4 linked regions of the Homo sapiens genome follow. The protein of the gene in region 1 interacts with the protein of each later gene in a biochemical or structural test. Each region holds a gene or a part of one and is shown in the gene's direction. Other genes may lie near its edges. The genes, in order: PTPRS, SLITRK1, GPC4 and OMG.

Evidence for each region.
Region 2: the proteins of PTPRS (region 1) and SLITRK1 form a complex in vitro, tested with the Homo sapiens proteins (one study listed by BioGRID).
Region 3: the proteins of PTPRS (region 1) and GPC4 form a complex in vitro, tested with the Homo sapiens proteins (one study listed by BioGRID).
Region 4: the proteins of PTPRS (region 1) and OMG form a complex in vitro, tested with the Homo sapiens proteins (one study listed by BioGRID).

The regions. Positions count from the first base shown.
Region 1 is NC_000019.10:5,204,984-5,211,814, reverse strand, and holds the end of PTPRS (receptor-type tyrosine-protein phosphatase S isoform 1 precursor), read left to right. Parts: intron 1-46; coding exon 47-225; intron 226-1,009; coding exon 1,010-1,136; intron 1,137-1,220; coding exon 1,221-1,346; intron 1,347-3,423; coding exon 3,424-3,578; intron 3,579-3,757; coding exon 3,758-3,893; intron 3,894-4,972; coding exon 4,973-5,041; 3' UTR 5,042-6,307; downstream 6,308-6,831. UniProt on the Homo sapiens protein: Cell surface receptor that binds to glycosaminoglycans, including chondroitin sulfate proteoglycans and heparan sulfate proteoglycan.
Region 2 is NC_000013.11:83,879,470-83,886,560, reverse strand, and holds the start of SLITRK1 (SLIT and NTRK-like protein 1 precursor), read left to right. Parts: upstream 1-4,086; 5' UTR 4,087-4,557; exon of another isoform or gene 4,558-5,000; 5' UTR 5,001-5,053; coding exon 5,054-7,091. UniProt on the Homo sapiens protein: It is involved in synaptogenesis and promotes excitatory synapse differentiation. Enhances neuronal dendrite outgrowth.
Region 3 is NC_000023.11:133,405,487-133,412,512, reverse strand, and holds part of GPC4 (glypican-4 precursor), read left to right. Parts: intron 1-7,026. UniProt on the Homo sapiens protein: Cell surface proteoglycan that bears heparan sulfate. May be involved in the development of kidney tubules and of the central nervous system.
Region 4 is NC_000017.11:31,294,232-31,302,050, reverse strand, and holds OMG (oligodendrocyte-myelin glycoprotein precursor), read left to right. Parts: upstream 1-4,811; 5' UTR 4,812-4,895; intron 4,896-5,713; 5' UTR 5,714-5,719; coding exon 5,720-7,042; 3' UTR 7,043-7,404; downstream 7,405-7,819. UniProt on the Homo sapiens protein: Cell adhesion molecule contributing to the interactive process required for myelination in the central nervous system.

The DNA.
Region 1 (6,831 bases):
GCCTTCCTCATCCTGATGGTGGCCTCTGGCTTCCTCCTCCCCACAGCGGCTGGCTAACTCCAAGGCCCACACGTCACGCTTCATCAGTGCCAATCTGCCTTGTAACAAGTTCAAGAACCGCCTGGTGAACATCATGCCCTATGAGAGCACACGGGTCTGTCTGCAACCCATCCGGGGTGTGGAGGGCTCTGACTACATCAACGCCAGCTTCATTGATGGCTACAGGTAGGTGCCATGCCTTTCCCACCTCAGGGCCCCAGAAGGAGCCCATCTCTACTCTCAAGAGGCCTCCAGTCTTGTGGGAGACAGAGCTGGGGAGATACTGGTAGCCCTGAGCTGTTTAAATACACATCTTTAGATGTATATTTAACTGATGGCTGCTGTCCGTGAATCTTTGGGTGTGTGTTTAACTGATGGCTGCTGTCCATAATGTGATTCCATCTGTTCTATCAGTGGTTCTCAATTGGGGTAATTCTGACACCCTGAGGATATTTCTTATTTTCATGAGTACTACTGGTACTGCCTGGGTGGGGACCAGGCATGCTGCTCAGCATCCTACAGTACACAGAACAGCTTGTCTCAGAGAACAATCCAGCGCCAAATGTCAATAGCACTGAGATTGAGAAATCCTGGCAAAGGAGGGGAGGGTGTTCCTGGCAGAGGGTGCCACATGTGCAAAGGCCCGGGGCTGAGAGCTTGGCCCACGCAAGCAACTGAAAGTAGGGCAGTGGCCCTTGAAGGAGATGGAGGGAAGAAATCAGGAGAGGTTAGTGGATAGTCCCGCAGCTTTGTCAAGGGATTTGAATTTGTCATGAGACTGGTGGTTTCCCCACATGCAAAATGGGATCACCAGGAGGGGAAGTGGTGCACCCAGCAGCCATTCCTGGCAGGCAGTGGGGTGGTAGGTGTAGCTGTCACTGGCTTGGTCCTGACCCTCCCGGGCAGCATCAGGTGAGTACCACGCCGGGTCTCCCTGCCGGCCCTGGGCTCATACCCCCAACGCCTGCAGGCAGCAGAAGGCCTACATCGCGACACAGGGGCCGCTGGCGGAGACCACGGAAGACTTCTGGCGCATGCTGTGGGAGAACAATTCGACGATCGTGGTGATGCTGACCAAGCTGCGGGAGATGGGCCGGGTGAGCTAGGGGCCACAGCAGGGAAGGGCGAGGGCCAGACTGTGGCTCAGACAGCGCTGACCACGGCCGCCATCTCCTCCACAGGAGAAGTGTCACCAGTACTGGCCGGCCGAGCGCTCTGCCCGCTACCAGTACTTTGTGGTAGATCCGATGGCAGAATACAACATGCCTCAGTATATCCTGCGAGAGTTCAAGGTCACAGATGCCCGGGTGAGTGAAGAGACAGACTGGCGGGAGGGGCTGGAGCCTTAGTGATCTGGAAAGGGCTGCCCTGGTTGGTGATGGATACAAAGGCCAAGGGTTAGGCATAAGCATTGGGAATCAGGAGAAGTGTCAGCTGACCAGTTGGCCACTTGCTTCTACTGCCACATAGGTGGAAGAGAGGGTCTTATCTCTGTGCTGACCCTGCAGTGTCTCCACTCACTAGGGAACATGGCCCCAGGGGATGATATTCAAGGAAGTGAATGGGGCTTTCCTCTGGAAGCAGCCACCTGTGGAGGATGATGTTAAAGGGCTGAAAGGGACTTGAGGGATTGAGGGTGAGGGGTGGTAGACGGTGGACAAGGAGAGTCAGATGGTGGGGACTGGCACCGTTGGGTGAGGAGAGATGAGTATGGATGGTGTTGGCTCAATGAAGGACTGCAGTGTCAGGTGGAGGGAGAAAGGCCAGGTATTAGGTGGCAACAGATGAAGACTCATAGTGGAAGGTGGCCCTGTTGGGTGACAAAGGATCAAAGTTAGTGGTGGAAGATCGACGATGGTAGAGAACGCAGTGAGGGGATGATAGAGGATGGGGAATGTTGGCCAAGATGATGCCAAAGGATGGTGAAGGCTGCTGAATGAACAGCAATCACCGGGCATTGTGCTGTGAGCAGTGCAAGATGGTGCCCTTGGAGGGGTGGAATCTGGAATTGGAGAGAAGAACATTCGCATAACAGGATGGAGAATGTCAGTGGAATGTGGTAGTTTGGGTCAGTGAAGGGTGATGCTTTATCAGTGATGGATGGAGGAAGACAGAATTGGAGAAGGGCAAATGTTTGGCCAGCAGGGGGTGGAGAAAATCAATGGGAAATACTAGGACTAAGAAAGGACAGTAAACAATAGTCAATGGTATAAACCAATGGGTGGTACAAGATTGAGGAAGATGGGGTTGGGAAAGGAGATTTTAGAAAATGTAAAACATCAGGGAAAGATGGTACATTGGATGGCAAATGGTGGCAGAGGATAACAATTTTGGATGGCACCATTTTGATGGTGGAGGATGGGATTAGAACAAGGCAGATGATGGGGAATGGAGAATGTCAGTGGAAGATGGTACCCTTGGATGGTGGAGAGTGATGAATTGTTAGTGATGGATGGTGGAAAATGGCACCATTGAGTTGTGAAGGATGGAAGATGGCAGAGAATGATGTGGTTGGATGGCACCACTGGGTGGTAGGAAAGGAGACTGCAAAGAGGAATGGTTGAGTAGTGGGGAATGAAGACAGTCAGTGGAAGATGCCATCACTGAATGGTTAAGGATGAGTTACCAAGAGGGGATGGTGGTGGATGATGGAAGATGATGGTGTTGGGTGGAACTCGGGACGGCAGAAGGTAGTGAGTTACCAGCAGTGGGTGGTAGCAGTGGCACTGTTATTGGATGGTGGAAGATGATGGTGTTGGATGGTGGACGATGAAAGATGATGGCACCATTGGGTTGTAGAAGATGAGTCATCATTGATGAGCTATGGACAGTGATGGAGTTGAGTTGTGCTGTAGGGCCCCGAAATGGCACAGAGTGGAAGATGACAGAGGATCATGGTGAATAGGAGCTGGGAAGGGCAGAGCTGGTTGCACTATGGGATGGCAAAGGATGGAGGATGGAGGTGCTGGATGTCATACAGGAAATGTGGGGAGAGGAACAGCTGGGTGGCAAGAAGTGGTGAGGATGAGGTTGGAGCATCTCTTATGGAAAGCAGTACCATTGGATTGTGAAGGACGGTAAGTTGTCAGGGTAAATGAATGGCAGAGAGTGTACAAAATGGGGGTGAGGGCCGGGCCTGGTGGCTCATGCCTGTAATCCCAGCTAATCGGGAGGCTGAGGCAGGAGAATTACTTGAATCACTGGAGGTGGAGGTTGCAGTGAGCCGAGATCACGCCATTGCACTCCAACCTGGGCGACAAGAGTGAAACTCCATCTCAAAAACAAACAAACAAACAAAAAATGGGGGTGAAGATAGGGAGGATGGAGAAAAACCCCCATGGCCGCTGCTGACCTGATAACAAGATTGGGCTCTCTGCACTCTAGGATGGCCAGTCCCGGACTGTCCGGCAGTTCCAGTTCACAGACTGGCCGGAACAGGGTGTGCCAAAGTCGGGGGAGGGCTTCATCGACTTCATTGGCCAAGTGCATAAGACTAAGGAGCAGTTTGGCCAGGACGGCCCCATCTCTGTCCACTGCAGGTGAGCTCCCTCGAGTGTCCCAGCTTTTGGCCCTGCTGGGGAAACTGAGGCCTGGTGGGGACAGCCCCAAGCTTAGGCTGTCCCATCTGGGCTGTTAGAGTCCTCGGGGAATCGGGTGGTCAGATCAGGGCTCCCCAGCACCTGCCCCTGAATGGCTGTGCTCACTTTACTGCCACCAGTGCCGGCGTGGGCAGGACGGGCGTCTTCATCACGCTTAGCATCGTGCTGGAGCGGATGCGGTATGAAGGCGTGGTGGACATCTTTCAGACGGTGAAGATGCTACGAACCCAGCGGCCGGCCATGGTGCAGACAGAGGTAAAGATGGGACAGGGAGGGGAGGCAGCCTGGCCTCACGCCCCGACTGCCCCTAAGCTCCAGTTTCCTCCTCTGTGAGATGGGTACAGCCACCTGGGACTCTCTGGGTCACTGTGGGTAGACGGTCCACAGACCCCTCCCGCACTGGAAGGGGACCAGTAACCCTTTTAACACAACAGTCAGCTGAAGGTCAAAGGCGAGAAGTGGCCCTTGGAGTGGACAGAGATGGGCTCATTGCAGTCCCCAAGTCACAGCAAGTCTGTGGCTCAGCCTGGACCCTGCCAAGAACCACTGACCCCCAAGTCCAACCAATGTACAGATGGGGAAACTGAGGCCCAGACTCCTAGCTTCAAGGGGAATGTTCCAGTGGAGGGGGTTCTGAACAGCAGCCATGTCTTAAAAGATGAGTAGAGGGGACCCGGCGTGGCAGCTCACACCTGTAATCCCAGCACTTTGGGAGGCTGAGGTGGGAGGATCGCTTGAGCCCATCCTGGGCAACACAGAAAGACCCCATCTCTACAAAAAAAATAGAAATGAGGCTGGGTGTGGTGGCTTATGCCTGTAATCCCAGCACTTTGGGAGGCCAAGGCAGGCAGATCACCCGAGGTCAGGAGTTTGAGACCAGCCTGGCCAACATGGCGAAACCCTGTCTCTACTAAAAATACAAAAATCAGCTGGGCATGGTGGTACACGCCTGTCATCCCAGCTACTTGGGAGGCTCAGGCAGGAGAATCACTTGAACCCAGGAGACAGAGGTTGCAGGGAGCCAAGATGGCGCCACTGCACTCCAGCCTGGGCAACACAGCGAGACTCCGTCTCAAAATAAATAAAAAAGAAAAGATGAATAGGGCCTCCAGGCAGACGGGAGGAGAGGGCGTTCCGGGTGAAGAGCCTGGCTGTGTTAGGCAGAGAGGTGTGGCATAGCTCACTTCATTGTGGGAGGGCCGTGGGGGCCAAAGAGACCTTCTGCAAGAGACACGCACAAGGCTGAGGAGCTTGGCCTGCTCCTGAGGGCGATAGGGAGCCCTGGGAGGCGTTAGAGCAGCGGAGGTACTAACAGGTCACCTCTGCTCCCCCAGGATGAGTACCAGTTCTGTTACCAGGCGGCACTGGAGTACCTCGGAAGCTTTGACCACTATGCAACCTAAAGCCATGGTTCCCCCCAGGCCCGACACCACTGGCCCCGGATGCCTCTGCCCCTCCCGGGCGGACCTCCTGAGGCCTGGACCCCCAGTGGGCAGGGCAGGAGGTGGCAGCGGCAGCAGCTGTGTTTCTGCACCATTTCCGAGGACGACGCAGCCCCTCGAGCCCCCCCACCGGCCCCGGCCGCCCCAGCGACCTCCCTGGCACCGGCCGCCGCCTTCAAATACTTGGCACATTCCTCCTTTCCTTCCAATTCCAAAACCAGATTCCGGGGTGGGGGGTGGGGGGATGGTGAGCAAATAGGAGTGCTCCCCAGAACCAGAGGAGGGTGGGGCACAGACCATAGACGGACCCCTCGTCCTCCCCCAGCGGTGGTAGGGGGACCCGGGGGGCTCCTCCCCGCTCTGCAGCCTGGGGACACTGGGCTGGGACCAGAATCCAGCTTTCTTTTAAAACTCTCAGTGTAACTGTATCCCGTGACATTTCATTTTTTTTAAATAGTGTATTTTTTTTTCCATTTTTTTTTTTAAGAGAAACAAACAAAAGACTCGCCAGTCAATGACTTTCAAAGAGAACTAACTTTGGCTTATTCATATTCTGTTCAAAGACAGTCTATTTTTTCACTGTAGAAAGCGTCCTTGTGTGATAGTTACGTTCGCAAACGCGCACGCCAGGCCCATGGCTGTACCTTGGCTTTTTTTTTTTTTTTTTTTTTTTTAATTTTTCCTACCATCAGAAAGTGTGCTTTGCTCACAGAAGAATGGGATGTCCTTTTTTCTTTCTTGGCTTTTTTTTTCCCCCTTTTTGTTTCATTTTTATAAATTAAATTTTCAGACATATCAAATACAGTTCTGAGGGTAAGGTCATGGGGGAGCTCGGACCCAGTGGCGTTGGGTGCGGTTGAGGGGGACGCTGCTGTAAGAGGAGAGAGATGACAGTGGTCCTCCTCTGAGAGCCTGAGCTGTCTCCCCGTCTCCCGCCCCCAAGGAGACAGAGAGGATCCTACTTCTTCGGGGACAGTGGCTGTATGGCTGTGCTGCCCCACATCAGGGACCCTTTCCCCCTGGGACTGTGGGGCAGTTTGGGAGCAAAACCAGAAGGACAGGCCCCCCTCTACCCGCCTACCCTGAGCAAGCGAGTTGTTCCTCTTTGTACAAGGGCAGGTCTGCGGTTACTTTCAACACTGTTTATTCCAGCGGAAGCAGCCGGGTGGTTTTCCCACCCCCGTGTATGTAGATATATCGACTTTGTATTAAAGGAAGATCGTCTGACCCCGGCCCATTGTGGAGTCTTTGTTGCGCCCCTGCCTGTCCAGTTTCATCCCTGGGGTGGAGGTCGGTGGGGTCCTGGAGAGCTGATCTCGTTTCCTTGTGTGAACAGTCAGAGGAGGAGTTGGCCCAGAGAGGTGGTGGTGCTTGTCCAAGACCACACACCGCTGAGGCGGGTGGATCACAAGGTCAGGAGTTTGAGACCAGCCTGGCCAACATGGTGAAACCCAGCCTGGCCAACATGGTGAAACTCAACTCTACTAAAAATACAAAAATTAGCCAGGCGCAGTGGCGGGCGCCTGTAATCCCAGTTACTCAGGAGGCTGAGGCAGGAGAATCGCTTGAACCCAGGAGTTAGAGGTTGCAGTGAGCTGAGATCATGCCATTGCACTCCAACCTGGGTGACAGAGTAAGACTGTCTCAAAAAAAAAAAAAAAAAAAAAACTCAAAACACCGATGAAGTGGCCAGGCCAAGATTTGAACCCAAGCCCTGGTCCTGTAGGGGCTGCCTCGTGTTCTCATTCTAA
Region 2 (7,091 bases), on another chromosome or scaffold:
ATGAGAAACTCATAGCCAAACCTATGGCCCAAAGTAATAAAAAATATAAAATGATATAAACATAGGACAGTGATACTTTAAGCCACAAAGTAAAACTGTACATTCATTTTGATGTGTTTTACTGAGATTGCTATTTCTTTGATGAGAAATAAAAGTTGCTAAGTTTTAAAAAGCAATATACTATAAAAGAAATACTATAAAAATATTGTATTAACTTCACCTTCAGAAATTGTGTAATATCTTCATTATCGTAGCACCCAATTCCTAGAATATTACAATCTACAAAAATAAGATATGAAAATATGTGTGAGAATCTTACATTCTAAGCATATTTGTTTATAGGTACAATTCATTTATAACCCTGTCTTGTAGTTTACAATTATTATCTCAAGATGAAAAAAATCACAATGACCCCTTTATCTTATGACAGTAGTAGATTAAACTTAGGACTAATGAATTCTCTCCTACAGTGGTTATACTGTTTATTACTGGTTTCAAATCATAGTAAATATTAAATGTGGTAACAATTATCCTGAGTTCAAATGTGAAAAGTCTAAGGAAGGCAAGAGACACTAGGTCTGTTGTAAAATCATTTTTAAAGTGTTTTGGATTCAGAAAAAAGCAACGTGAAGGGACCAAAAAAATCATAAACTATAATATATACTAGTATGTGTTAAATATACTAGTAAGGAAACTGATCCACAGAAAGCTTAACCAGGGTCATAAATGGCATTGTATATTAAGAACAAAGAGAGACTTAGTAGAATAAAAGCTTAGTTCAGGAGTCTGTAGCTTTGTTACCATAACAAAGTCAAATGATATTTTTTAATCTTGGTAAATTAGTCAATGTTACTTAGCCTCAGTTTCCACATCCATAAAATAGGATCAAATTCACTATTAACCAACCAGTTATCTTTAGTTCTCTGCAATAAAAAGTATTGTGGATGAGGGAAGAGTAAAGATAGACTTCCTATATGTAATTTTGTATTTGTTAAATCAAAGTATTACTTTTACAGTTAAAAATTAGAACAGTAATTTTTAAAGTTATTGTGAAGATTAAATAAACTGGATAAAAAAAGTTAGTTATAAATTCTACTTTTTCATTTTAAAAATGTAGTGCACATATGGAAATATCTAGAAACTTGATGCCATTTGGGAAAAAATGGATAATTAACTGGCAAATTTCTTCTTAGTCTGAAAAATTCTTTATTGAACAATCAACATACACCTTTTCTTGTTTGAGAGGAGAACTTGTTTGATGAAGAATAGAAATGTGTGAACATTTAATGACACAATTGAAATCTTTCTGGTCACAGCCAGGAAATTAAACTATAGCCCTGAGCAAATATTATCAATCATCATCATCATCTGGAATATCCTTTATCTCCAGCTACTGAGATTATCTGTTGAGAGGCAAGGCAACTGAAGGAGTTCACTTGAGCTCAAATAGACAGCGTGGAACCCTTTTAAGAAAAATTCATGCCTAAGAAATATTCCCCTAAGGTATTAGAAATGTTTAGATCACATATAAATCCCTTATATTTTTATTCTCCACCAATAAATTTATTGTTTAACTTGAATAGTTAGGCTTTGAAGTTGTAGGTGTGGTTTTCTAGACCGTTTTATGTCTCTAAAATATATTTATTATGAAAATATTATGATAGCTATTATAGAGGGTCCATTTCAATAGACTTACATGTGTACCTCTATATTTTGCTTGCAAGTTTGTATTGGAGATCTTCATATAGGCGGTATAATCTTAATCTTTTCTTCTCAGGTTTAGTTGCTCATCTGAGAACTACCACACTTTTTTCTTAGAGTGCAGAGATAAGAAATTATTTGAAGAGGATATAATTTAAAAAATTTTGTAAGATACCTAAATAGGAGAATCCTAACTGTAAATTTTCTATTGTGATTGGTGTGTTAAGAGGAAAGAAGAAATAAGGGATGAGAGAAAGATACAGAATTTAAAGGGTGAAGAGGAGAATGAAATCTGAATACAAACTGTAGGTTATCTAAATTCATTTAAATCAACTTAAATATGTTCTTGGAGTCTCTTCACATAAAGATAATATTCTGTAAGTTGAAAAAAAATGTAACCTTTTAAGGTTAAAAATGTGGGTTTTAGATGATTGTCCTTTCTAAACAGCCAGCATTTTTCTGTTTTCCTTGAGTCTTGCCTAACCCTATTAATCACAGACACCATAAGGCTGATTTCCTTTCTCAGAGTGGTTTCTTGGGCCAAGATATTTTAGACCTGAGTCCTATTTAAGAAGAAACAGAAAAATGATTTCCTTCAGTTGAACTCCTCCACATCTGCAGTTCTCAACTGCATAGCATTTCTTTAGCATAATGGTTTCAAATTGATTAAGGTCTTTTTTTTTCACTCTCTACATGTGGTAATGGGTCAAATTAAATGAGAACAGAGTTATTTCAGAAGTGTATCAGGATGTCTAAAAAAGATCTCTCTAGTGTACACACGTGCACACACACAAACACACACATGCATGCACATACACACACACACTGAAATGTCTTCATCCCCACCTCCCTTCACTGAATTTCACCAGAGGAATACAACAAAAATATTTTGTCATATGAAAACATTGTATATAGATATGAAATTTTCTCCACCCACCTAGAAATTAGATTCTGACCCAGAAAAAAAAATCTTGTAAACATCTTTAAGACCTTCCCTAGCCTTGGGAATTTTCCCAACCCCAGTCCTTTCCCCCAAATTTTTACTCCCCATCTTTCTCAAAATACACACTTCCTTGAACATTTGCTCTTTTGCACAAAATATTAGCAAGCTCGTTGCAGCTGTCCAACTTGCAAAAGACCTAATTAAAAAGGCAAGTGGTGTAAACATATCCTCTCTGCATAGAGTGAAGAAAGGGCCAAACAGTAACTCTATTTAAAAGACCTAAAAATTTCAAATCCTAAAATGATCTATAAATATTTTAGGACGTATTGATGTGAAAAGGTGTCGACTCTGAAAGGAAAAGTCAGCAAAAGAGGCTTCACGGAAGCAGCATGTTCACGTTTTCTTCCATCCCAGAAGGTGATATTACTGGATTTTTATAAGCTCAGAGTTTGGAATCTGTTGTTTCCTTAACTGGAAAAAGCCTGAGCTTCGTGTTTCCCCAGCATCAGTGACCCAACAAGCATCTGCGCGAAGAGGAGCTGCCGGCTACCTGCAGAGAGCGTTCTCGCTGAGCTTTAGAGTCCAGAGATTTCTATCTCCTCCTCTCAAAATGCAACTGGTTATTTACTTGTAAACATTTAAATTAGTTCAAACTGATGTGAAAACTTTGTCAGTGGGGTGTGTGTGTGTGTGTGCGTGCGTGTAGTGTGCGCGCGCCTGCCTGCCAGTGGGTTTTTAACAGCACTCACAAATCATCTTGGGATTTTTCCCTGCCCCCTCTCCCTTCTTTTCCGGTTCTCAGTTAAAGCTTTCGGGACTGGAATCAAGGACTTCAGCATGCATTGTGTTTCACCCTCCAGAGTTAAATAACATTCAAGAAATATCAAAGAACCTAACTCTCAATGACCAAATTGACTAAATTTCTGCAAGTTTTAAAAAGTATATGCCTAATTTATATACCTTGCAAAAAAATTCATACTCAATTATGATATTATGTAACATATATGTTCCGAAAGCCACTTTGAACATACCAAAAGAAATGTTTCAAAGACATCAAATAGCGTAAAACACTGTGCCGCAGAGAAGGAAGAAATGCATTTAAAGAACCGATGAAAATGGCGTGCAGTATAATTACCTCAAATTGCTGTTCGCTTGACACCCTGACACTAATTTTATTCAAGCCATTGGGAAATAAATGTTTTAAAAGCACTCCTTTCCGAATGGTGGAGCTGGTGGGGGCTGTGAACTCGTTAAGGAAAGGAAAGGGTAAAGTTTCCAGCACGCAAAAATAATCAAATAATCCATTTAAAATAAGCATCTATGTAGATCGTCAGCCTTTTATGCCCACATTTTTAACGCTTGCCCTGTACGTGGATTGATTTTTTTTTCTTTCAGCATTCCCTAGCCAGATGGATTTTTGCTACTGCAGATCAGCAGAGGGTGTCAGATCTTTCAGAGTGCACCAGGCTGGAACGAGCAGAGCTTCTTAGCAACTCTCTTCTCCGCCCCCCTCCCCTCATTCTCGCGCTCTCTTCCTCCCTCAGACAACTCGCCCCCCGCCCTCCGCCCCCCTCCACGTAATTCCGAAAGAGCAGAAGAAAGAGAAGGAGAACAGGAAAAGAAGAGCTAGTAAGCGAGAGCGAGAGCACAGAAAAGAAAAAAAAAAGCCTTAAGAGGACCGAAGGGGAGGAAAGGAAAAGGATGGACAACCACAAAACGCAGCGATTGCGGAAATTTTCCAGCGCCATTGGCTGGGCAGCGTGAGTCCTTCGGTCGGGCGTGATTTCAGCACCGGGGGAACTGGACAGCACCTCGGGGGGACTTCTGGGCAACCCGCAACCACAGCAAGAACTCCACCAGCAGCCTCAACAACAGAAGCCGCGGAAAACCCTGCTTTGTATCAGAGAGGCAAGGTCAGTCCGACGCACAGCCATGCACAGGCAGTGCGCCTGTACTACGCTGCAAACCCTCTGCTTGTTTCTCTAACATGCACTTGCTTCTAATTACTAGCATTGTTTCATTTCTGATCAGTGAAGATCAGTAGATGAGATTCTGTAAGGGTGTACTTTTAATTTATATGTATATATTTAACTTCTTTTTCTGTTATTTTTAAAGTGTTGTGGGGGAGTGGGGTTTTTTTCCTACTTTTTTTTTTTTTTTTTTTTCTTTGCTTGCCTTGCACTACGTGCCTGGATAGTTTGTGGATATAATTATTGACTGGCGTCTGGGCTATTGCAGTGCGGGGGGGTTAGGGAGGAAGGAATCCACCCCCACCCCCCCAAACCCTTTTCTTCTCCTTTCCTGGCTTCGGACATTGGAGCACTAAATGAACTTGAATTGTGTCTGTGGCGAGCAGGATGGTCGCTGTTACTTTGTGATGAGATCGGGGATGAATTGCTCGCTTTAAAAATGCTGCTTTGGATTCTGTTGCTGGAGACGTCTCTTTGTTTTGCCGCTGGAAACGTTACAGGGGACGTTTGCAAAGAGAAGATCTGTTCCTGCAATGAGATAGAAGGGGACCTACACGTAGACTGTGAAAAAAAGGGCTTCACAAGTCTGCAGCGTTTCACTGCCCCGACTTCCCAGTTTTACCATTTATTTCTGCATGGCAATTCCCTCACTCGACTTTTCCCTAATGAGTTCGCTAACTTTTATAATGCGGTTAGTTTGCACATGGAAAACAATGGCTTGCATGAAATCGTTCCGGGGGCTTTTCTGGGGCTGCAGCTGGTGAAAAGGCTGCACATCAACAACAACAAGATCAAGTCTTTTCGAAAGCAGACTTTTCTGGGGCTGGACGATCTGGAATATCTCCAGGCTGATTTTAATTTATTACGAGATATAGACCCGGGGGCCTTCCAGGACTTGAACAAGCTGGAGGTGCTCATTTTAAATGACAATCTCATCAGCACCCTACCTGCCAACGTGTTCCAGTATGTGCCCATCACCCACCTCGACCTCCGGGGTAACAGGCTGAAAACGCTGCCCTATGAGGAGGTCTTGGAGCAAATCCCTGGTATTGCGGAGATCCTGCTAGAGGATAACCCTTGGGACTGCACCTGTGATCTGCTCTCCCTGAAAGAATGGCTGGAAAACATTCCCAAGAATGCCCTGATCGGCCGAGTGGTCTGCGAAGCCCCCACCAGACTGCAGGGTAAAGACCTCAATGAAACCACCGAACAGGACTTGTGTCCTTTGAAAAACCGAGTGGATTCTAGTCTCCCGGCGCCCCCTGCCCAAGAAGAGACCTTTGCTCCTGGACCCCTGCCAACTCCTTTCAAGACAAATGGGCAAGAGGATCATGCCACACCAGGGTCTGCTCCAAACGGAGGTACAAAGATCCCAGGCAACTGGCAGATCAAAATCAGACCCACAGCAGCGATAGCGACGGGTAGCTCCAGGAACAAACCCTTAGCTAACAGTTTACCCTGCCCTGGGGGCTGCAGCTGCGACCACATCCCAGGGTCGGGTTTAAAGATGAACTGCAACAACAGGAACGTGAGCAGCTTGGCTGATTTGAAGCCCAAGCTCTCTAACGTGCAGGAGCTTTTCCTACGAGATAACAAGATCCACAGCATCCGAAAATCGCACTTTGTGGATTACAAGAACCTCATTCTGTTGGATCTGGGCAACAATAACATCGCTACTGTAGAGAACAACACTTTCAAGAACCTTTTGGACCTCAGGTGGCTATACATGGATAGCAATTACCTGGACACGCTGTCCCGGGAGAAATTCGCGGGGCTGCAAAACCTAGAGTACCTGAACGTGGAGTACAACGCTATCCAGCTCATCCTCCCGGGCACTTTCAATGCCATGCCCAAACTGAGGATCCTCATTCTCAACAACAACCTGCTGAGGTCCCTGCCTGTGGACGTGTTCGCTGGGGTCTCGCTCTCTAAACTCAGCCTGCACAACAATTACTTCATGTACCTCCCGGTGGCAGGGGTGCTGGACCAGTTAACCTCCATCATCCAGATAGACCTCCACGGAAACCCCTGGGAGTGCTCCTGCACAATTGTGCCTTTCAAGCAGTGGGCAGAACGCTTGGGTTCCGAAGTGCTGATGAGCGACCTCAAGTGTGAGACGCCGGTGAACTTCTTTAGAAAGGATTTCATGCTCCTCTCCAATGACGAGATCTGCCCTCAGCTGTACGCTAGGATCTCGCCCACGTTAACTTCGCACAGTAAAAACAGCACTGGGTTGGCGGAGACCGGGACGCACTCCAACTCCTACCTAGACACCAGCAGGGTGTCCATCTCGGTGTTGGTCCCGGGACTGCTGCTGGTGTTTGTCACCTCCGCCTTCACCGTGGTGGGCATGCTCGTGTTTATCCTGAGGAACCGAAAGCGGTCCAAGAGACGAGATGCCAACTCCTCCGCGTCCGAGATTAATTCCCTACAGACAGTCTGTGACTCTTCCTACTGGCACAATGGGCCTTACAACG
Region 3 (7,026 bases), on another chromosome or scaffold:
AAGGAAGTGCCTTTTTAGCTGGAATCCTTGGAAGACCACCAAGGACTTTAGCTCATGCAGTGCAATTTCGCACCACTTTCAACAATAACAAAAATGCATGACTGAATGGCTCAAAAATGTGGAGTGTTAGAGGCATTCATTTGAGTCTAGGACACTGTCACAACACAGACAGACCCAAGTAAATACCTTTAGACGGCCAGTATAGAAACAGGCGTAATCTTTACCATCACCCTGGCCTCTCCAGATGCATACATTAGCCTTGTCTTCTCTGAGCTACACTCAGATAATTTTGGTCATTTTTTAAGGGGGATAGTCAATATAGTGACTTGTATTCAGCCTAGGTCTGGATGGATTAATTGCCAGGCACTTTGCCTGGGATGGGGAATGTGCTTTTTTCAGTGCAAAACACCCAGGATCATTTTCCAGGTGAAGTATCACAAAGTCTGGGTACCTAGCTCATTGAGCCCCAGGCTCAGCCCAAGTTTAATGTTTTATTCCAGATGGCCTTGCACTTGCCTTCTAGAGGTTTGAACAGGCTTTAAGAATACTCCATGTTCTGGAGGAGTCTCAGTCTTTATAGATCATAGTTAGGATCATCTGATGTGCTCTCAAGGGTGTCAGGGAGTACATCATGCTGACAGGGCTTCCAACTGAGGTCCTGCATTGCCTGTCTGCTTGACCCCTGTACTTTTCAAATAATGCTGAGTCCAGGTGCCATGATCAAAAGGGATCTTTAACACAAAGATTATGTTTTTGTTCAGCTTTCAATGGCCATGTACTTTTGGAGCGCCCACTATGTGCAGTATCCTCTGCTCAGCATTGTGGAGACAGCAAGAAAGGCAGGAGGGGCTTCTGCCACCAGGACCTTTCCTATTAGTAAGGAGATAAGCCACGCACACACAAAATTAGAATACAACACAGTGGTGATAAGTGCCATACAAGCGATACAGATGACGAGAAGGGAGTGCCCAGGCATTTCAAAGAGAGAAGGGATTTAGGACTCTAATACTATAGAATATTAACTGGGTAAAGCTAGTTCACTAGTAAAAATGAAAATACTAATGAAGATAAGTTTAAAAATCTAACCATTTTCATTATGCCTCCCTCCATAAAGACAAAGGTAAAGGGTATGCAACAATGGGCATTTTATTACTCATCTATGTTGAAATTGTTTTTAAGAGTGAGGCAGTGGGTTAGAAGCATTCATGAACTTGCCAAAGGTCCTCTTCACAATGACATTGAATGATACTCAGAACTTTGTGCCCTAGTTGCAGTTTTGGAGTTTTTATTTCTTGTTCCCTTCTGTGTTCATGAGCAATGCACCTATGATCATGTGCTCACACACACATACATATGTACATGCACAAAGGATTCCAGGACTCCTATAAGCTGTTATGACTACGTGGAAAAAAAGTACGTGTGTATGTGTGTTGGAGAGGTAGCAATACTTTCTAATAGTGAGTTGATTATATATGACACACAGCATGTGTCTTTAAGATTTGTATTCCGCCTTCCCCACCGTAAGTAATGTGTTGGATTTTGCAATGAATCTGTGATCTCCTGTTTTGTTGGAATCATCAATTTGGCTCTGTGTTTCACTTGGGGAGGGTCGAATTGAGCCACAGGGCCTATCACTGTAGAAATTGTCCCAAGTAGTTTACAGGAGGTATCTTCTGGACATGTTCAAAAAAGAATTTAGTTAAAGTTCTGGCTTATGCAGCTCAGTCTCTGGTTAGAACATATAAATATAAAATGTCTGATTCAGCATAATTACTGTTTTCCTTTTTTATTTGATTCACGTTGGGTTGCATGCAATTTCAGGATTAACTGGAGACTAGACTGAGGAATGAAAAAGGAAGTTTTTTGTTATGTGTACAAGGGAAACAACATTGGCGTTAATCTGAGGCAGTTGGAAGTGAGTCTCTCTGGCTCCCCAATGACATTAACTGTTTTAGCACTGAGGTTTTTTTCTTATTTATGTTTTTAAAAATGTATTTTGGCCTCATGATAAGAGTTCGTAGCTATTGAATGCTTTCTCTGGGCCTGGCCCTATACCAAGGAACTTACATGATTGTCTCATTTAAAACCCACAACAACCATATGACATCAGAATTATCATCTCCATTTTATAGACAAGAAAACAAATTCAAAGGGATTATGAAATATGTTCACAATCTTATAGCTAATGAATAACAGAGGTGGGATTTGAACCCAGGTCTTATCTGTTCTAGAGTATAGTTCATGCTATGTTGTACAGATAGTAAGACAAGAAAGTACCTTCTCTATTCCCATAGAGGTTGTTGAGATATAAAGTATGGGAGGACCCTCAGCTAACTAGTAACAGACCATCATCAAAACGGCACAATTTTCGTGTTATAGTGGAGAGGATCCAGTCACATCTTTTGTAGACAAAATGTCAAACCCAGACATAGACAATCTAGTGTTAATGGTAGAAGGAATATAAATTGTATTTCCTGGACAATACAATTGAGCCAATGAGGGTTTCTGAGGGAGGGGAATGTCGTCAGTCAAGCTGTTTTAGGAAGATAACTAGTGGCTCTTTGGGTTAAGGGTTGGCGAGGCAAGAGATAAAGACAGGGAGGTCTGTCAGCAGACTCTTTTTAAATAGTTCTTAACTGGTCTACCTGCCTCTTGTCTGTCCCCCCCTCCTAAATCCCTGTTCTATCCTGAACATCGCCAGCTTAATTTCCTTACATCACTGCTTTGATTAGAGTTATTCCTGTGCTTTGAGCTTCAGTGGCTCCAAGCATCTCAAATGATACTTCTTTCATTGAGTCACTTCTGAACTCTCCAGGGTTATGTGCCCACTTCTTCCTAATTCCCTGTTGGAACCAGTCCATGGTCTTTGTACATAACTGCCTTGTATTATAGTTAACTGTGTGTGCAGGTACGTGTTTGTCTTCTCAACTGGAAGCAACTTGAGGGCAAAGATGACAACTCCTCGTCTTGTCTGTGGGTAGCAGTACCAAGTGTGGTAGGTCAGTGCAATATTTGTTAAACAAGTGGGAGAATAACATAGCCAATTCTATTGTGTTCTCTGTCAGACACTAGTGCTACAATGAGATTATACTGCCTTGATGATAGATTGTCATTCCATGGTCTGTTGATCTCCTAGGAATCTTTTGGATCTAAACACTTTTTTTTTTTTTTTTTTTTTTTTTTTTTTTTTTTAAGGCAGGGTCTCACTGTTGCCCAGACTGGAGTGCAGTGGCGTGATCTTGCCTCATCGCAACCTCTGCCTCCCAGGCTCAAGCAATTCTCCTGCCTCAGCCTCCAGAGTAGCTGGGATTATAGGCATGAGCCACTACCGCCTGGCTAATTTTTTTTTTTTTTTTCCAAGATGAAGTTTCGCTCTGTTGCCCAGGCTGGATTGCAGTCGCGTGATCTCGGCTCACTGCAATCTCCACCTCCTGGGTTCAAAGGATTCTCTTGCCTCAGCCTCCCGAGTAGCTGGGATTATAGGCGTGTGCCACCATACCCGGCTAATTTTTGTATTTTTAGTAGAGACGTGGTTTCACCATGTTGGCCAGGCTGGTCTAGAACTCCTGACCTCAAATGATCCAGCCTCCCAAAGTGCTGGAATTACAGGCATGAACCACCATTCCAGGCCTGTATCTAAACACTTTGAAGTGAAATAAATTTAAAGTAAATATGCATATGTTGGTATAGCTTGGAGAACGTTTTTATTCTTTTGGGGGAGTACTTGTCTTTACCACTTCATTAATAACTGAATGCTTATAGGATTTTTTTTTATTTTTTGAAACAGAGTTTCGCTCTTGTTGCCCAGGCTGGAGTGCAATGGCACGATCTCAGCTCTCCGCAACCTCCGCCTCTGGTTCAAGCCATTCTCCTGCCTCAGCCTCCAGAGTAGCTGGGATTACAGGCATGCACCACCATGCCCGGCTAATTTTGTATTTTTAGTAGAGATGGAGTTTTTCCATGTTAGTCAGGCTGGTCTTGAACTCCTGACCTCAGGTGATCCACCTCGGCCTCCCAAAGTGCTGGGATTACAGGCATGAGCTACTGCACTGGCCAGGAATTTTTCAGAAAGATTCAGAATTGTTTTTCTTAATGCCTTGAGATACACTTCTTTAAAGAATGAACAGTTGAGACTGTTGTGATTAGGCAATTTAGAGCAAATTTACCACATGCAACTGTTCAGTGTGCATCAGTTACCTTTTAACATAAAAAAACTCAAGTTTATTGTCTTTACCAAGAAGAACACAAGCTTTGAAGGGTATCAGAATATTTTATATAAATAAACAGACATACTAAAATACAAACAGGTAAAAACTAGCATTTTCAAATCTACTTGGTTAAACATCTGTTGCTTACTATAGAGAACATGAAAGTGCAGAAAATGCATGAAGCGATTCCATCCTGGAGGTAATTTGAAATATTATGTTTAAGTTCTGATGCATTTAATTCAGCAATCTGGTGGGAGAGAAAAATCAAAGAGCTGCATCAGCCAGGTATTCAACTTTTGAGAAAGAAACTCTAACAAATGTTAGAAATTAGGGGAAAAAACTGAATGGGAGAGTTAAAAAAGTCAATAACCTCCAGGAAGCCTGGAAACTATGTAAAAACATCTTATTGGAAGCCCAGATAAATGTGTGCCAGACATCAAAAAGACCAACTGCTCGGGGGAAGAAAAAAAGAACCCGGCATGACTAACTGGCAGAGTAAAAGAGGCTGCTTCAGGGAAAAAGGCATCTTTCACAAAATACAAAGAGTTTAAGCCAGAAGAGGGAAGTCCACTAGGTTTCACAAGGCCCAGGTACAAACTAGAAATTAAGTGGGCTGACAGAGAATTGAAGTTGAATCTTGCAAGGGATTTGAAAGATGGCATGTGTGATAATAATGGTGAAAAGGGTGGGTTGAGTCCAACCTATCTAGGGAGAAGCAATATGGCTTCTTTAAGGGTAAACCATGCCTGATTGATCTCTCGGGATTCTTTGTGTGGAAAAAAAAGCATGAGGATACAGGGAAGCAGACATACATCATTTAGGTTTTTAAAAATTATGCAATGGGATTCTAAGGCAAAGAATATTCAGAAAATATATTTACTTTGAGATAGGTGGGGATAGTTGGACAGAGAGGGAGAGTGAGGGAGGGAAGAGACTCCACTGTTGTAGATGGAGTAGTTTACATGGAGAAGACATGGCTTGTTAGGATGAGTAGTTCTAGCCTAACTCTGGCAAATTTGTTGTCAAATACCTTTGGTGAGGTTCTTCCCTCTTTGAAAAATGGGGTGAAATTGAACCACCTGGCACCTGAGGAGCTTTTAAAATATACTAATGCCTGGGTACCACCCCATACCAATGAAATAATACTTTTTTCAGGAAGGACTAGGCCATGATGGATGGATGGATGGATGGATGAATGTGTGTGTGTGTGTGTGTATTTTTTTTTTTTGAGATGGAGTCTTGCTCTTGTCACCCAGGCTGGCGTGCAATGGCGTGATCTCAACTTACTACAGCCTCCACTTCCTGGGTTCAAGCGATCCTTCTGCCTCAGCTTCCCGAGTAGCTGGGACTACAGGTGTGTGCTGCCACACCCGGCTGGTTTTTTGTATGTTTAGTAGAGATGGGGATTCACCATGTTGGCCAGGCTGGTCTTGAACTCCTGGCCTCAAGTGATCCACCCACCTTGGCCTCCCAAAGTATTGGTATTACAGGCGTGAGCCACTGTGCCTGGCCCATGGTAGTTTTTTTTAATTTTCTTTTTTTTTTTTTTTTTTTTTTGAGACGAAGTCTTGCTCTGTTGCCAAGGCTGGGTGCAATGGCATGATCTCCACTCACTGCAACCTCCGCCTCCTGGGTTCAAGTGATTCTCCTGCTTCAGCCTCCTGAGTAGCTGGAATTACAGGAGCACACCACCACTCCTGGCTAATTTTTTATATTTTTAGTAGAGACAGGGTTTCACCATGTTGGCCAGGCTGGTCTCGAACTCCTGACCTCGTGATCCGCCCGCCTCGGCCTCCCAAAGTGCTGGGATTACAGGCGTGAGCCAGCATGCCTGGCCTAGGTCCCTTCCATCTCTGAGATTCTATTATTCTAAATTTTCCAATGAGATTCATCACAAAATGTTGTTTGAGATAAAGCCTTTAGTTTAGAATCAGTGCATGGTTGTTTTAATTTTGGCTAACTTGGATTTAAGAGAAAGGTGTGTCAAACATGGAGGAAAATGTTTTCAATCAAGATATAAGTGTGAACCACAACTGAGTGCTGCTTTGCTGCAGGTAGAGACATAAGACAAGCACAATGAGAATACTTTGGAAAGAATTAGAACAGAATCCAGCCTTGCTGTCATTTATTGATTAAGTGTCAACATGCTAGGTGATATTTCTTCCCTTTTTCTTTATTGGTAAAATTAAAATAAATCTCTTTATCCCTTACTTTAATGTCCTCTTTGCCATGTGTTTATTCTCTTCAAGTATCTTATCAAGAAATAGAAGTACAGTAAATCCCTAGGCTTCTAGCTGGTGCAACCATCCAGAACACAGCTGGGAATGTGGAAGTAAGCAGAAAAGCCAAATGATGGAAACAGCTGTCATAAAGCCCATGCATTCTATGTGGAGAAAAGGCCTTCAGAAATTTATTATCAGCAATCATTGAATGGCTCCTGTATCCAGAGCAGTATGCTGGGTGCAGGGGATTCCAAGAGGTGTCAAGCAGGAATCAAGCTTTTGAGGAACTTGCATTCAAATTAGGTAGATAGGGTTTATACGTGAGAAGATAAAATGCTTTGGTTATCCAGTTTCCCAGTCTATGGCAGATTAGAAGTAGCAAATGGTATTGGTTGGGGGCCGATGGGAATCACAGGAAGGGATCGTGTTAGAGGCAGGTAAGACTTGACATCTGGAAGAAGTGAGAGAGGACAGTTGGAGGGTGACCAGAAGCTGAATGGGAGAGCCAGAACTTGCTGATCTTGGCAGTTTGAGATCTCCTAGAATGGGCGAATGCTCAAAGCCACCTTTGTAACCATAATCATCGAGGGCACTAG
Region 4 (7,819 bases), on another chromosome or scaffold:
CCAAACAGTGGCAATCCTTGCTTAATCAGCAGGAAGAGATACAAACTAATAAATGCAGGACAGAAGAAAATGCTGGAACAAAGAAAAATCTTTTAGAGAAAAGATTAAAGAACTAAGATCCAGAAGAGAAAGTTTATTTCATGAATACTGCAAAAGAATAAGGCACAGGGGAATAAAAGGTAGATTAAAGTTCACACCACATACTAGTGGTGCTCTTAACCAAAATAGCATTAACCAGAGTCAGACACAACCCTGAAGACCATTTGGTTCAACTCCTTTTGTTTGTTAACTACTGAGAAAACAGGACCAGAGAAAGTAAGTGATGTGCTTAGAAGTGGTATTAAAAGCTGAGTTTGCTCCCTGACTATTGGTTCAACACTCTTTTCACTAATATAGGACCAAAGAGCACCTACATCATGCACTGAAACATACATATATCACATAAGTCTTCTATTTGGTGTCAGTGGTGAGGGACACAAATGAATTAGATGAGGGTGATCTTTAACTGTTGTTCTTACTGAATTCTGATCAAAAAGTAAAGTAGCACCTTTGGGAACCTATAACTAAAACACTGTGGTACCGGTATATGACTAAACAAACAGATCAATGGAACAGAAGAAAAAGTCCAGAAATAAATATCAAATCAGTGGAAACAAGCATTGGAACAATTGGATAGACATCTGGAAAAAAGAAAAAATTTGATCCATACTTCACACTATATTGGAACACCAAGGACCAGAGTTCTAAATATAAACCATGAAATTATACAAGTAATAGAAGAAAATATGAGTAAATTCCTTTATAATCTGGAAGCGGGAAAAAACCTTCCTAGCTGAGACTCAAAATCCAGAGGCAATAAAAAGGGAAATCAAATTATATGAAACTTTTAAATATCACACACATGCAAGTGCGCATTACACACAGACACACACACCTCACCATAATAAAGCCAAAAGACAAATGGCAAACTGGAAAAAAAAATTAAAACTTAAATCAAGACAAAGTGCTAATACCTCTAAAATTTAAAATGCTCCTAATATGGGGCAGGAAGGGGAAGACCCAAAACACAACTTTTAATAGTGCAAAACATTAAAAAGACAGTTACAGGAGAAAACATTTAAATGGTCTTTAAACATATGTAAAGACATATACTCCCCCTCATAATTACAGAGATGCATTTAAAATTAGATGGAGATACTTGCCTATCAGATGGACAATAAATCCCAAAGTTCAACAACAAAGTATACAGTGAGGCTGTATAGAACTCGACACCATGATACACTGTTGGTGGGACTGCAAAATGGTATAATCAATGGAGAGGAATTTAGTAATGTCTGGAAAAATTCCAAATGCATTTACCCTTTTACCCAGCAATCCTACTTCTAGGAATCTTTTTCAAAGATTTACTGGCAAACATATAAAATTATTTAGGTACAAGGGTATTCACTGTGGCATTATTCGTAACAGCAAAAGTCTGAAAAACCCAGATGTCCACCAATAGGGGACTGGTTGAATAAGCCATGGTACATTCCCAAATGGAGTACTATGGATCAAACAGTGAATCATACAGATACCTATATACTGATATGGAGTGATACTCAAGATACAGTAAGAAAAGAAGAACAAGTTATCTAACAGTATGTATATATGTCACCTTTTATATTAGAAGGGGGGATAAGAACATACCATACATATGCTTACATTTTTTTTAGGTTTTCAAAAAGAAATGTTAATGATACAACGAAAAACTAATAAAAACAGTTACTAATAGCAGAAGGAAGGAAATAGGATGGAAAAGACAGAGAAGCAAGATTTATCTGAATATACATTGTTATATATATAATTTTGACTTGTGATCCTGAAAAGCTGAAAACTGAAACAAAGTTTATATCAAGTTGGTGATATAAAAATACACAGAAAAGAATTATTTCACATTGCATTAGAACACAGAATTTACTATACACTTTTAGTAAAATAAAGCAAGCAGAGCTACAAACAAATTTTAAACTTTATTCGGTAGTCTATAATCTAATTGTAGCAATCAATACTGGTATTATTTTGAAATTATTGTGAGATGATGCAAATGAGCAATTATGTCAATGATATGAGGAATCACTTATAGAAAATATGGGGGACAGAAGAACAAATTAAATCTTCCCAAAGAGTCAAAGAGAAAACTCCAAGATGAGAGACATTTTAGGAAATAATTGACTGAGTTTTGGCAACAAGCCAGTGGCATAAAGAAAAAAAGGAGTAGGGAGGTGGGCAAAGAAACTGATTCATTTGGATTTTGACTTGGTAATTTCTATGTTGTTATTTCTTTCATGCTTTTAAAGTACTTTATTGAGTACTCTCAGTTGTATTCAGCAGGAAAATCAGTCTAAATAGCCAACCATATTACCAAAAATAAACAATATCTGACTCTCAAGCATAGCAAATGTTACCTATAATAATGGAAAACTGAAACCACTGATTAGCGTGGGATAGCTATTCCTTGGCAGATGCTTTGTGATACCTTTCACAATGTTGGGGTAATATATCCTAGGACACAAAAGAATACGTAAATTAATTTACTGCTTAATCTAGAATGTAAAAGTTGCCTAACTATCATTACTGACCTAGACAGCCTAATAGAAAATGTAATGAGTCTGAATAATATTTAAAATAAGTTGTAACACATACTTATGCCTCTAAAAAATATTTTTTTTGAGTAACAGTAATACAGTATTATTTTATTTCATGAGAATTTCTTTTATTTATTTATTTATTTTTATTATACTTTAAGTTTTAGGGTACATGTGCACAACGTGCAGGTTAGTTACATATGTATACATGTGCCATGCTGGTGTGCTGCACCCAGTGTAAGAGATTGTTAGAATTCAAATATATTGAAATGATCTCCCTTTTTCTTTTTGAGAATTTTACAATAATCTTTGAATAATATGAAGCAATTTGGTATGTCCCAAACTTGAAATGAGAAACATTGCCACTACTATTGCACTGGAATTTTCTATTATATACAACAGAAACTAAACTTGATACAGCCTAAACCCAAATTCATTTGAATCCATTAATGAAGTAACATGTCTTTTCTTTCAAACAAAAGTACTGTTAAGTGTAATGAAAATGCATAACTCTACTTCTACACTGACTTAATGAGGTTTCCTAAAATTAAGAGATTTAAGTGGTCGGTAAATTGACCCTCAGTCACATCTTTAGAAGTGCAGCAGTGTATATATGAGCTTAAATAGAACTCTAAATGTCAATGCATTCCCTATTTCCACAATATTGCTGAATGTAGTATTTTTAACACATTATTTTAAGCACTATGATTGATGGCTGGTTTCCTAAATCCACAGTAAGAATCCAATTGAGAGTTCAACTGAACCCTCAAAGTAAAGTGGCAATAAAGCACCCAATCAACAATAAACTTCTATGTTGCGGACTCTTAAAATGCAGATACTTTTCGAGGAACATTAGTTTTATACAAAAGGTGGCTCCTAGAGTATAGTTTCTCTTGTAAGAAAATAAACTTCAAATTTTAATACAACAAATTCTATTTGTGGTATAATCTAAATAATGCTAATATAATTTAGAGAAAAACAAACGATTTAGTAACAAGGCATAAAGAGACTTTCCTTACACATAACATGCTAAATATTACTCGTTTTTAAATGGTGCCACTTGGTAACGAAAATACCGTAACTTTATTTGCTTTCTTTAAACTTGCCATTCTGGAAATCAGATTTGTGTTTTAACAGATTTACACAAGCAGTCCACTGAAGAGTGGAGCAAAATTTATCATAAATCTGATCTCACTTTATAAAACTCATGATGAAAAATTTTCCTTTTATATCATTTCATGTAATTTTAAAACTATAAACTACTTTCCCAGAAAGATGAAATGTGCAACACTCTGAAATCACCTAAATTGATACTGCTATTCTTAAAACATAAAATCAAATAAATGGTCATTCATACAGCACCAAAAATGTCTTTGGAAAAAACAATACTCATATCCACTTACCACCCAAGGTTGCATAAAGAAAAAAAACTTTAACTCCAAATATATAAAATAAAACATGTTTATTTTACATAGGAACTGATAATCTGAAGTATAAGATGCTAATTTCCAAATGTATCCTGGCTTGTGTGTAGCCTTGGTCAAATGATCATTGTATCAGAAAGATAAAGAAAAAATAATCGTATTTCAGTACTTCTATACATCCTAAAAGGGAAGACGGAACACTTAAGTGGTTGATAAATTTGAAAAGCTGATTAAACATAATAATCACCATGTTGGGGGAAGACATAAAAGTCATAAAACAGATTTTTTATAATATTAAAAAAGTGACATGAAAATTATACAATTTTAGAAAGGAATATAAAAAGGCAGGAGTTAAAAAATAGTGGGACTAATATCATAGAAAACTATCCATGAGGAAGGTCAAATTTATTTTCAACATGTAAAAAGGATAAAGAGTAGAGGTATTTTAAAAATTCACAGATTCTTAATGAGGCAAATGTTAAAATATGGAACCCAATCTCAGACAAATACATAGAAAGGAGTAAGGGCCAACTCTCATGCATAAGGTATCCCATCCTATAGCAAATCAGATATATAGGTACGCTTGATGCCACAAATTTTTTAAAAAATTGTCCATTTTGTTGCGTGTGCACCTCTTGCCATAAATTTGAGTCAGCACCAGCGACAGCTCTGCAGTCCTCCTATGTGGTACTGATCAGGTGGTTGCAGAGCTTCAGCTCACAGCAACACAATGCAGCTGAGCAGGCAAGCACAGCCCACAGCCAGAAACAGTTCCGACTCTACAGAACAAGACGACCTTTAAGTTTCCCAGAGAAAATGAGATGCTGATGTTGAAGACGACACCACGGTAAGATGTTATTTAAATCAGTAAAAGGCTGACTTTGGAATCTTTTTCCTTTTTCTTTTAAGAAAAAGTCAACGTTAGGATTAAATATATATTCAATAGCAAGTGCATGCACCAGAAATTTGCTGCAGTGTCAGTTGAGGGATATTTTTTATACATTCAGTCACTCTGTAAATATACATATTGTTTTCCTTTAAAATGGGCACTGAAATATACAGAAAAAAATCACTTTATAAAATGTGAGGTTTATAGGTACTGTGTTGGTCTGGATTTTTCAAGTGCTTTTTACAAAGATATATTTATCCTAAAAACATACAGATAAAATTTCGAAGAACTGCTTTAATATCTAAATAAAATCTACCCTATATACACACATTGAATTACATTACTGCAGAGATTAAAAAAAAAAGACACGACAGCCATTTTTTCTCATCTGAGTAAGAAAGCATATCATCAAAAATAGTAATAGCCTACAACTGCAACTATTTATTTGCAAAGAATGCTATTTTATCATATTAAGGCTCTAGAAAGATAAATAAGAAAGAATATGGTTAGAAAAGGGGGGAGGGAGAGAGAAAATAAAGGAGAAAATGCAGGAGAGAGTAGGGAGAGAGTCTCTCTCTACCACATAGCCCAATTGAAGGATTAAGCATTTGGACTATAAATGAAGGGGAGCTTTGTTAGTTTAATCACTGGAACAATTATAAAAGGACTCGACAACAACGAGGTTTATTGAAAATTTTGCCTAATGCTAACTGACCCATGCAGATGCCTAAACTGTATTTGCATATTAAAAGAAGGGTGTATCTGTTTGTTTCTAGGCTTTGATGGAATATCAGATATTGAAAATGTCTCTCTGCCTGTTCATCCTTCTGTTTCTCACACCTGGTATTTTATGCATTTGTCCTCTCCAATGTATATGCACAGAGAGGCACAGGCATGTGGACTGTTCAGGCAGAAACTTGTCTACATTACCATCTGGACTGCAAGAGAATATTATACATTTAAACCTGTCTTATAACCACTTTACTGATCTGCATAACCAGTTAACCCAATATACCAATCTGAGGACCCTGGACATTTCAAACAACAGGCTTGAAAGCCTGCCTGCTCACTTACCTCGGTCTCTGTGGAACATGTCTGCTGCTAACAACAACATTAAACTTCTTGACAAATCTGATACTGCTTATCAGTGGAATCTTAAATATCTGGATGTTTCTAAGAACATGCTGGAAAAGGTTGTCCTCATTAAAAATACACTAAGAAGTCTCGAGGTTCTCAACCTCAGTAGTAACAAACTTTGGACAGTTCCAACCAACATGCCCTCCAAACTACATATCGTGGACCTGTCTAATAATTCTTTGACACAAATTCTTCCAGGTACATTAATAAACCTGACAAATCTCACACATCTTTACCTGCACAACAATAAGTTCACATTCATTCCAGACCAATCTTTTGACCAACTCTTTCAGTTGCAAGAGATAACCCTTTACAATAACAGGTGGTCATGTGACCACAAACAAAACATTACTTACTTACTGAAGTGGATGATGGAAACAAAAGCCCATGTGATAGGGACTCCATGTTCTACCCAAATATCATCTTTAAAGGAACATAACATGTATCCCACACCTTCTGGATTTACCTCAAGCTTATTCACTGTAAGTGGGATGCAGACAGTGGACACCATTAACTCTCTGAGTGTGGTAACTCAACCCAAAGTGACCAAAATACCCAAACAATATCGAACAAAGGAAACAACGTTTGGTGCCACTCTAAGCAAAGACACCACCTTTACTAGCACTGATAAGGCTTTTGTGCCCTATCCAGAAGATACATCCACAGAGACTATCAATTCACATGAAGCAGCAGCTGCAACTCTAACTATTCATCTCCAAGATGGAATGGTCACAAACACAAGCCTCACTAGCTCAACAAAATCATCCCCAACACCCATGACCCTAAGTATCACTAGTGGCATGCCAAATAATTTCTCTGAAATGCCTCAACAAAGCACAACCCTTAACTTATGGAGGGAAGAGACAACCACAAATGTAAAGACTCCATTACCTTCTGTGGCAAATGCTTGGAAAGTAAATGCTTCATTTCTCTTATTGCTCAATGTTGTGGTCATGCTGGCTGTCTGAGGGTCTGCATTTTCTGAAACTAATGAAAGCACTCCTCCCTGATGTACAGTTGGGAAAATATGTCCATATCTAACCAGTGATTCGAGCTATATTTAAGTATTCAAGAAAGCCAGTCTTAACATTTCTAACTCTGATGTAAATGAAGTAACTTGTCTTAAATAAAAGAAATGCACAATGTCTTGGTACTTGCTGCTATTTTACTGTCTTAATTAAGTAAACTAATGAGTTTCTTTTATAAAAAAAATGAAATGTTTTAAGGCTTCAATTTATTGCACAAAATATAAAGCATCTAAACTTTAATATGTATTTTATGTATGTTTACACTGTCAAACATCTGGAAAATAAAAGGTCTATGCTCATAACTGTGTCATTTGGCTTTCCAGTCATACCAACTTTAGCAGAATCAAAATGACCTCACCATTTTTGTTCTAGGGTACCTTGGTAAAATCTTTAAGGTAAATAAAATGGCGGTAGTATCCAAGGATATTTTACTGAAGTAAAATCGTAGCTGCCATCCCATGAATGGTTATGCTACAACATTATTTTACAGACAAGCCATAATTGTTTTAAATCTAAATGATGTCCTGCTTCTGAGGAACTCTTGGCTACTTGACAGATTATATAATGGACAAAAGCTCTTCAAAAAGCTAGAAGACACTAGGCTTTGCATTTTAATAAGAAAAGTTTAACGGTTGTGTTTTTTGCATGTAAGAAAAGTGTTAAAAACATAATGAAAAAATTTAAAAACATGTAAAGAAGCAGTTTTAGTGCAGATTT